Regions from separate parts of the Homo sapiens genome. Here region 2 is linked to region 1. Evidence: fine-mapped expression QTL. A gene starts in region 1. The other region holds a variant in brackets. All regions are shown on one strand. Distances are from middle to middle.

What was found. PIP is the estimated chance that this variant, and not a neighbour inherited with it, causes the effect. A credible set is the group of variants that fine-mapping cannot tell apart.
Region 2: its variant is the best candidate, but not a certain one, in a credible set for the expression of C4orf50 in prefrontal cortex (ROSMAP, PIP 0.53).

Annotation. Positions count from the first base shown.
Region 1 is chr4:6,015,408-6,020,407 of GRCh38, forward strand. C4orf50 (chromosome 4 open reading frame 50) reads right to left here and starts at 3,024. Exons shown (of 12, transcript NM_001364689.3): 1 at 2,738-3,024. The coding sequence starts at 3,024.
Region 2 is chr4:5,970,545-5,976,062 of GRCh38, forward strand. C4orf50 (chromosome 4 open reading frame 50) reads right to left here. Exons shown (of 12, transcript NM_001364689.3): 8 at 5,355-5,411; 9 at 3,115-3,297. Among named protein-coding and RNA genes, the nearest start is that of C4orf50, 45 kb to the right of the region's middle. RefSeq lists enhancers at 444-1,254, 2,876-3,437, 3,438-3,998. The variant C/T (reference allele first, on the strand shown) is at 3,114.

The DNA of each region.
Region 1 (5,000 bases):
CCTGCCGACCCCCCGAGCTTGGGCTTTTGGGATCCAGAAATGTGAGAAAATAAGTTTTTGTTAAGTCACCCAGGTCTGCAAATAATGCCATTTCATTATAATGTTGATGAGAAAAAAAAAGATTCCCAGCCAGGGCCACTGTCTATGTGGAGTTTGCCCATTCTCCCCATGTCTGTGTGGGCTTTCTCGGGGTACCCTGGTCTCCTCCTGCAGCTGTAACACGTCACCACAAGCTTGGCGGCCAGAAGTCGGAATCAGTCTTCCTGAGCTAGTCGAGCTGTCAGTGGAGCCAAGCCCTCTCCGAGGCTGAAGGGGAAATCCAATTCCTGGTCTTCTCCAGGTCTAGAGCTGCATTCCTGGGCTCCTGGCCCTGCCTTCATCTTTGGAGCCAGCTGCATGCAATCCCACACTGGCGGCCACACTGCCATCCCTAGACTCAACCCTCTCTGTCTCCCTCTCGCAAGGATACTTGTGATTGGTCTTAGAGACCAGCCGGCGAATCTGGGTCCATATCCCCATGTCACCATCCTTGACATGTCGACATAGTCCCAGCCTGCGTGAGTGTGCGCGTGGGTGTGAGTGTCCTGTTCAGGCCTTGCACCCTGAGCTGCCGGGAGAGGCCTCAGCCACCTGTGACCCTGAACTGGAACAATTGGGTAAATAATCATCTTACTTGTGTTTTTTTGAGTCTTTCTTAAATCTAAATTTGTTTGAGCCTTTCACATTTATTTCAATGTTTAACATTAGAAGTGTTTGGGGTCTTTATCTCAAAGTTTGGTGATGTTTTTGTGACCTGAAATATGCTGTAGGAACTTAACTCTTATTTGTATCAATTAGCCTATGGTCAAATTAGTTTTGTGGCCAGGTGTGGTGGCTCACGTCTATAATCCCAACACTTTGGGAGGCCAAGGCAGGCAGATCGCTTGAGGTCAGACGTTCGAGACCTGCATGGCCAACATGGTGAAACACTGTCTCTACTAAAAATACAAAAACTAGCTAGGCGTGGTGATGGGCGCCTATAGTCCCAGCTACTCGGGAGGCTGAGGCAGGAGAATCGCTTAAACCCAGGAGGTGGGGTTTGCAGTGAGCCAAGATTATGTCACTTCACTCCAGCCTGGGTGACAGAGTAAGACTCCATCTCAAAACAAAGCAAAATAAAAAACAAAAACAAATTGGTTTTGTTGTAGGTTGCTTCACTTAGTCACAGTTTCCAAGGGCCTATAGACAACGTTCAGTGAGGACTTACTGTGCTTTGTCATGGCAACCCAGGCAAACTAACATAACTTTGTATATGACTCTCGGAGGGTAAGTGCGTTGCAGAATGAATGAAAGAATGGGCAATCACATAGAGTAACAGAAGAATTTTTCTGATTTGTGAATTTCTTCATGCATAAAACTTTACCAAAAGGAAGAAAAGTAAATCACATGTGCATACACGTTCAATGGTCTGCCTTTACTAAATCAAAGGCAAGTACAAGAAAATGGGGAAGTCCCGCAAAAATCCAAGGCACGTGGCTGCTGGGATATGAGTAACGTGTCAGAATCAATCCCCGCTGTCACTGCATTGTGCTTCCATGCTGGGTTTCGCTGATCTATATACAAGGCCCAACCTCGTTCTGCCAGTCTGGGTGTCAAGACATCGTCAGGAAAGAAGATGGGCTTTAGAGAAAGACCTGGATTCAAACGCCCCACCTTGAGGCCAGGTCAGCTCCATCAGGCAAACAGTGCCCACAGCAGGAAGTTCTACAGAGAGAAACGAATGCGGAGAACCTATTTCAAAGATGACAGCAGAGTCCAAAGGCCAGACAGAGACAGGCAGCCTGGATTAGCAACTGCCGGAAGCCACTTCTGCCCCTGGGGCTGGACAGCCACACAGGGAAGAGACGATGTTACCAGGGCAGGGCAGAGCAGCCAGGCCACCCAGCGGGAGCTGGGACCGCAGAGGAAGCCGAGAGCACATCTGAGTTACAGCCACAGTGGGAGATGTCACTGTGGGAACAAGAGTGACTTTATTTTAAACGCTAATCCAGCAGGTGACTCTTGACTAACCCTGAGTCCACGAATGCCTCCAAGATGTGGAGTTGATATAGTTCTGTTTACGTAGAAACACCTATTCATTGTGAGTTTCCTCCAAAACAACCCTTGTCATTGCAGAAACCATAGGCTGTGATGCCTGTAGCCACCTATGCAAGCCTTCCAGAGCACACATGCTTTTTCCCCAGGATATAAGCCCTGGGTTGGGGATGGAAGGTTTGCTGTGTGGACATCTACTTGTCTGGCGGCTGCCTAAAACCATGCTTCTGTCTGCCAGTTCCCCTAAAAAAATCACCCCAAACCGACCAACTGGATTTGTCTGCCTCTGTCCTTGGTTTCTCAGTTCCTTCTACACTTCCCTGTCACTTTGAACATAGGGCCCTTTCATGGAACAGTCACCCAGAGAAGAAGAGAGGGAGAACACCTGGCTTCTCCCTGCCTCCCTCCGTTTCAGGGCCTCCCATTGGCTGCACCTAAATGGAAGCCTTTGAGCAGAGGAGCCCGGGCAGCCTCATCTGCAGGTACAGAGCAGAAGAAGGAGGGCGGGAGGAGCAGAAGGCAAGTGACTGCGTGGGCAGGTTACGTGTCTTTGGTGAGCCAGTTTCCCCAGCTGTGTGGTGTGATTCAACACACCATGGTGACACACTCTGATGGCCCCGCGGTTTGTGAAATACACACAGAGAGATCAAAATGGCATCGCTACCTGCTTCTCAGCCCGGACTCCGATGTCACGTACTTGTCCTCTGCTGCTGACAGCTTCTGCTCGGAGGACTCCAGCTGCCTCCTGAGCGCACCCATATCCATGTCTGGGCGGCCAGCTGCTTCTTCCTGAAGACATTCCCGCTCCTCAGCACTATCTTCCATGTCCTGGAATATCCAGGATGTGTCAATCTTCACATCAACGTTCATTATGTCGAACCCCTCACTGCTGGGGGCTCTGATGACGTAGCTGAAACTCTCCTCAGTCCGTCCCTTGGCTGTTGGCTCCATCTCAGAAATATTTCATGGGGCAAGACTTAATAATAAAATTAAGTGAGTTTGCAACATTGACTTCCCGGAGATTTCAAGGTGGTGTTTGTGACTTCAGATTGTTCAGGAAAATATCCTTTGAGAAGGGCAAGAACAGGTGGATTATTCATGAGTGGGTGACTTGGGTTTCATCTGCACAAGCGTCATACAATATGAATGAAAGCCTCTCGTTTTACAAGTCAGCATGCCAGAACTCACGCAAAGCAAGAAAAAGTTGCAGAAAAATCACTTGAGATGAAATGCCTAGTGATGAACACAGAGAGGAAAAATAAGACCTCCAGGTAAGGCCATCAGATGTTACAGACTCCCAGTAGTCAATGAAGCTTATCTTTTTACCACATAATGAATAAGGTTCCACACCTCCTCTTTGAGCACAGCACATATTTTTCAAGGACCTAGAGTTTGCTAGGGGAAGAGGATGGGAAATTTATGCTGCCCTGGGTGCCGTCTGCATCCAGGGCAGGGGCCTCTCATGCCTTACCTAGTCCAATTCTCCCGGTGACCTTATGAGGTGGGCGTTAACATGACCATTATACAGATGGTCAGACGGAGGCTCTGGAAGGTGAAGGAGCTTATCCGGGTCCCACAGGTGGGATGGGAAGTAGCAGAATCAGGATTCAAATATGGATCTGACTCCCAAACTGGAGTGTGTGTGTTCTGACACAGGAGATACAGTAATAGGTGAGCAACAAGACCCCAGAAAAGGAGCAAACGCATCCTTTGGGCACCCTGAGGAGGGGGAGCGAGCATGAGGCTGAAGAGATCGTAGGAGGAATGGGGAATTACAGCAGAGAGAGGTGGGGAGGAGACTCCCCCAGGTGGGGAGCATCCTCAGGCCACAGACCCGCACAGACAGGCAGGACAAGTGAAGGGAACAGGAGGACCAGACAAAGCTGGCCCCGTGGACACACAGAAGGAGGAAGTGAGGAGTGAGGACAGAGGAGGCTGGGTGCCATCTTCTCTCAGGCACTCAAGGACTCCGGCGTTTCTGTGGGCCCCTGGGAGAAGGGAGGTGCCTGGTCAAATGTCATTTTGAGGATCGAGCACTCTGGGGTTTGCAGGAGCGAGATGGAGGCAGCTGCACCTGTAGGAGGAGGCAGCGCCACAGGCCAGGCCTGGTGCAAAGAGGCGTCAGGACCAAGACAAATAGAAAATGAGAGGCTTCCGTCTCCCTGTTAAAAATAAGAGACGTCCTCCCTCCCTTTTCTTAAAGCATCTACTTTAGAAAATGTGTAAGTTCTTTCTTTGTCTCTTTGAAATATGTGTAAATCCTTTTTACAGCGAAATAAGCCTTTTCCAGCATTACGACTCAGGAATGTTTCCCTGAAGGACCTGGGCACCGCCTCTTTGAGATGTAAATTCGAAGGAAAACAGCGCCCCTAGTGTTCAGTGGGAGGAAGGAGCCGAATTGGGCAGGCGCCTGGCTCCGAGATGCAAAACCTGTCACAGTAAGTGACAGAAGGGTGGAACCCAGGTGCAGGAGAAGCTTTTTTTTCCTTTGTATAAAACAAATTAATGAACACAGAGGGTTGCCCTCGTTGTCAGGTGAGTTTAGGATGAACCATGTGAAACAATGACGCTATCGAGTCCTTTTCCGCAGGGATGAGAGAGGATGTGTGCATGGATTGTGCCTGCCTGGCCATATAAAAGGGTGAAACTTCTTACTGTCTTTGCAATCTCTCAGTGGGTTACCTGTAATGCACCTCATATCTTGGTTTAATGCTTATTCAATAATAAACCTTTTTTAAATTTTCTTTGTGATGAGGTTTTCTGTGCTGGGAGAAGCTTTTGTCTTTAATCATATTTTCCCAACAGTGGCCAATGTCTTGTTGGCCACAAGGGGTTTCCGTGGACCTGGGGCAGTTGGAGGCGGGGGATGGGGGTGCAGTGGAGCCACTCAGATCCCAGGCGCTGGGGCCAGGCTGCCTGGGTTCCAG
Region 2 (5,518 bases), 45 kb before region 1:
GCGGTGCTGGGACCCGTGGCCCCCAGCCCAACACCACATGCCTGCAGAAAGGGCACTGGGGCCAAACCGACTCTGAGGCTCAATTTCCACCACGCACCCAAACCAGGACAAGAAAAGAAAATGGAAATACAAAGACTCAGTCACGTGCAGGGAGGGGAGGTGGTCACCGACTGCTGCTTGCATGGGCACCAGGCCACGCCACCTCCTCCTGAAAGGGTAGAGCTTAGTGGCCTCAGCCCAAGGCCCAGCCCCCACCCCCTCAACAGCCCTGGGACATGCTGAGGCTCAGGGTCCCCCGTGGAGCCTAGCAGCAGGATGCTGGGAGGGTGGAGTAAGCAGATCCATGGAGAGCGTGCGAGGGGGAGGGCAGCATGAGTCTTGGCCACCATGACTTGGCTGGATAAATGAAGGCAGCCTGTCCAGTTGGGACCCTAGCCAGCCCACGCCCCCTACCCAAAGGCAGGGGCCAGAGAATGGGAGCGTCTCAGGACACTGTGAGCAACAGGAGCCCAGGGCCCTCCAGGGGTATTCCTGGAAGGTACATCAGCCCTCCACCGCCTGGCTGAAGTTCCCAGGACCTGTCCCTTGCTGCTCTGGCACTTCTCACCTCCAGCCCATCAGAGTCTCCCCAGCCATCCTGGCAGTCCTCCTGGGCTCCTAGCCAGAGCCCAAAGGCCCCCATCGGGAATTCCATCTGTGTCCTCTGAATTGACTGCCCATCAAGCAAGCAGCACTGGACCCGCTTCCTGCCTGGCTACCAGTAGGAGGAGTGGCCAGCGCCACGCCCACCCTGCTGTCCACTAGGAATCAAGATGCAGACACCCTGCCGGGGCACAGGTGCCTGTGGCCTCCCATCAGCCCAGCCTCCCCCGACTCCTCCCCTGGGGACCACACTGCAGCCAGCCTGGAGCTCTCTGAATTTCTGAAACACATCACAATTTTTTTTTTTCACTTTCAAAAGGCCTGGCAGGGACATCCTGGTCCACGGAAGCGTGTCCAGGCCCAGAAGCACATCCTTATAGGAAATGAATGAATCCGTCCGATGACATTATTAAAATAACTTTCCCTGCTCTCGTTCTGGGCTCTCAAGTGACAGATGAAGAAATGACTGAAAAAATTTGATTTTCCAGATAACTCAACTATAGGGAGAGAATACGCTGACAATTTTTCATCCATTCATCAGATACTTCAACCTGTGTAATAGTTCTCTTTCTCATAGGATATTTAAAAATTAATAGTCCAGTGTATACATCATTCTCTGTAAGTTTGGTCATTGTAAGTCAGCCGATCCAACCCCAGTGAACATTTCAATTCTAGTTCCAGGGCCTGTGAGAGTGAGGAGCAGCCCTTGGAAGGTGGGCTGCTGCTATGATGTCCCCACAGCAGCCAGCCAGCCGGCCTTCCAGGGTGACACCTGCTGCATTTGCAATTTGATACTTTCACAACCTGGAACTCTGCTTTCGATTTTTTTTTTTTTTTTTGACACAGTCTTGCTCTGTCACCAGGCTGGAGTGCAGTGGTGTGATCTCGGCTCACTGCAACCTCCACTTCCCGGGTTCAAGAGATTCTCCTGCCTCAGCCTCCTGAGTAGCTGGGACTACAGACACATGCCACCACGCCTAGCTAATTTTTGTATTTTTAGTAGAGACGGGGTTTCACCATGTTGGCCAGCATGGTCTCGATCTCTTGACCTTGTGATCTGTCCGCCCCGGCCTCCCAAAGTGCTGGGATTACAGGCACGAGCCACCGCGCCCGGCCTGCTTTCAATTTTATCTCACTTAACCCCCAGATATCAGGCCCCTAGTGGATCCCAAGGACTATGCAGGCACTTGGACAAAATTCTGCTCTCTTTTCTCACCCTTATTCTAGTTCTGAAGGAGTCTTGTACCCCTTGGGCAAAGAGAAGAGCAACAGACTGGGAGTCTGGGGCTCTGGATTCAAGTTCTGCCTATGAATTGAGTCAAAAAATGGCCCTGAACATGCCTCTTGGCCTCCAAGCCTCCATCTCTGCTGTGCAATGATTTGGACCAGAGGGGACCTCTCAAGGCTGTGAGGAAAAGGAAGGGTCAGAGGAGGTTGGCCTTGCAGAGACCAGGCTGGGCAGAGCTGCAGAGAGAGACTCAGACCTGGTGCCAAGGGGCTGAGAGCAAGCCCCACAGGCAGAGCCTGGAGGGACCATGGAAAACAGCCCCGGCTGTGTTTACCGTGGGAGCTGGTCTCACCCGCGCACATAAGGAGCGGAGCTAGTCTGGCGGGGGCGTTGCTGGCTTGTCCCCAGGAACGGGGCTGCATGTATATGTGTGGGCAGGCACGGCTGGGCACCCGTGGGTGCTGACTGTAGTCAGGAGAGCTGGCATTTGTCCCTGTGTGCACTGCCTGTGTGACCCGGAGCACATCTCCTAACCTCTCTGGCCTCAGCTTCCTCTTCTGTTGACCACTGGGAGAGGAGATTCTCATTCATTTGGTTCATTATTTCATTCATTCAACCAACATTCTTCCAGGTTTGTGGCAGATTCTCAGAGCCAGGCACTGGGAAGACAAAGATGGCTATGGAGCGGCTCTGGGCCCATCGGAGATGGGCCCACAAACTCCTGCAACAGCCAGGAGAGCTCCCTGCTCATGCCCCGTCACGCGGGGCCACGTGCAATGGAGCACAGAGGAAGCTGTGGCTAACTCTCTGGTCTGCGGGGCTCAGAGCAGGCTGCCTGGGCAAGGTCACACCTCTACCTTGAAGGATGGACAGGAGGTCATGGGGTGACCAAAGCAGCCTGCTAGAGGAAGTGGCCAGTGCACAGGTCCCGGCACAAAAGACCCATCCTGTGACACACACCCAATGAAGCTTGTATGACGCTGAATTACAATCACTGTTTACGTCTGTGCCTTGCACCATTTCCTGAGCACCATAAAGGGTAAGGATTGCCAGATGCATCTTCCCATGCCCACCCAGGGCATGGGCATGGGCACAGAGGAAAAGCCAGGGGGTGTCTTCTTGGGTAGTGTCCGCGGTGGGAGGGAGGGAGGAAAGGAGGGGCTGCTCCAGTCAGGCAGGGGCATGCAAGGGACGCGCCCACACTCCCATAGGAAGCACAGACAGGGCCATCTCTGGGACTCTA[C/T]CTCTGGGACTCCCGGAGCCAGGAAGGTGGCCGTGTACTCAGCCAGTGCCACGTCGTTGAGCATGTTCTGCGCCAGCTCGGAGAGCAGGAGGTTCCCCAGCCCATGTCTGTGCAGCTCCTGCAGCAGGTGGGTGATCAGGCGGTTCCTCTCCCGGCACTTCCGGACGAGGGAAGCTATCTTGGCCTGAAAGGGAGGGAGGCCATGGATGCAGAGCTCCCACCAGGGCTGCATGGCTGAGCTGGAGGGCTGGGGGCCGGAGGGTCAGCTGAGGCCCCTACTCACCATCCCCAGCCCTGCCTCAGCTCAGCGGAGCAGCCTCCTCCCTGCGAAGCCTCCCTGCCCCCAGAAGCCAGGCTGCTTTCGGAGCAGACGGCCACACACCCCCAGGGGCTCCGCACTGCCCTTTCCATGGGGTCTAGGCTCAAGGCAGCAGGGGTCAAGAGCGTGGATTTGGGCCCCACCACGGACCAGCTCTGTGAGCAAGCTCCCCTCTGCACCTCGACTTGCCCATCTGTACAATGGGCTTTGTCATGGACACCAGGATAAAAGGAGACGGCGCAGGCAGGCACCTACCGAGTGTCATGTTTCTATCCTTATCTCACATTTCGATAGCACTTTATAAGGGATTATGGCCTCCATTTAAAGAAATGCTCCACAGCAAATGATGGTGATGAGAGCGGTGGGGAGGGAAGCCTCACACTGCCGGAGCCTCACCGTCCGCTCTGCACCTTTCCAGCTACCACGTCTGCAGGGGCGCGGCAGGAATTATGACGATTTTTATTTTACGGGCGCCAACTCGAGGCTCAGACAGACACGGAAATGTGGGGTGGAAAATAACTTTAGGAACTGTCTGGCTCATGTTTCTGATTTGACGGCTGACGACACTGAGGCCCCAGAGGGAGGATGACTCTGCAGGTCAGCGGGAGTCCAGGGCATAACCAGGTTCTGCTGATGCCCAGCCCAGGGCACCTCCCTCTCCACTCTGCCCTGAGGCCAGAGAGAAAGAGCAGAGCCCCCAGCTTCTCCTCAGATCCAGGCCCATGTTCAAGATGAAATGTGTTACCTTGACCAAATTCTGTGTCCTGCTAGCAAAGAATATATTAAACCCCATGGGTGAGTAATGACATTTCTGGGAATTGATCTTAAACATAAATGTCTAGATACGTGGAGAAAACCTTTCTGAGAAAACCTGTACATTGGCCGGGTACGGTGGCTCATGCCTGTAATCCCAGCACTTTGGGAGGCCAAGAGGGGGTGGATCACCTGAGGTCAGGAGTTCGAGACCACCCTGGCCAACATGGTGAAACCCTGTCTCTACTAAAAATACAAAAATTAGCCAAGTGTGGTGGCACATGCCTGTAATCCCAGCTACTTGGGAGGCTGAGACAGGAGAATCACTTGAACCTGGGAGGCAGAGGTTGCAGTGAGCCAAAATCGTACCATTGCACTCCAGCCTGGGCGACAGAGTGACACTCCATCTCAAAAAAAAAAAAAAAAAAAAAAAAAAAAAAAAAAAAAAACTACATCACAGTGTTTGCACACAATTAATGATACAAAAGAGAGAGTGATAGAAAGGAAGGGGCTTGAGCACAGAGCGCAGGGGTGGTGATTTTATGGACCAAGGCCTCTCGTGCTTCACCCCAGCATGAAAAGTGCAGCCTCAAAGGCTGGGACCCACCTCCTAGGTCACCCCATCGAGTGGGAACAGCAGGAGGCAAACGTATACGCATCGTAGGCTCTCAAACACATGGGAAACGTACTGGAGGAAAAGACATGGAAATGCCATGTGCAAGCAGGGGCTGCTGCTTTCTGTCTCCTTCATTCTTCTTTGCGGTTTTTTTGTTTTGTTTTGTTTTGTTTTGTTTTGTTTTGAGTCAGGGTCTCACTCTGTTGCCCAAGCTGGAGAGCAGTGACGTGATCTCGGCTCACTGCAGCCTTGACCTCCTGGGTTCAAGCAATCTTCCCCCCTCAGCCCTCCCAAGTAACTGGGACTATAGACGCATGCCATCACGCCTGTATGGGATTTGGCCATGTTGCCCAGGCCGGTCTCAAACTCCTGAGCTCAAGCAATCCACCCGCCTCAGCCTCCCAAAGTGCTGGGATTACAGGTGTGAGCCACCGTGCCTGGCCCTACCCAGACTTTTATACAATAGAGGTGGATTACATGTCTAACAGGAAAACTACTAAACTCTCTTTTGTTTTGAAAGAGGCATTTCATGTTGATTTTATGAACATATTACCTTCAGGGGAGTCACTGCCAACTTTGCTTCATGTTGCTTTTTCTGAAGTTCTTCAAGCTGAAATAAAAGCGACATTTTTGACAACACTGCACTGTCACTTACCACTGTCCAGAGCTTCCCCAGGCAAGCTGGGCTCAGAACAGCTGGCAGTTGCCTGCCCTCTT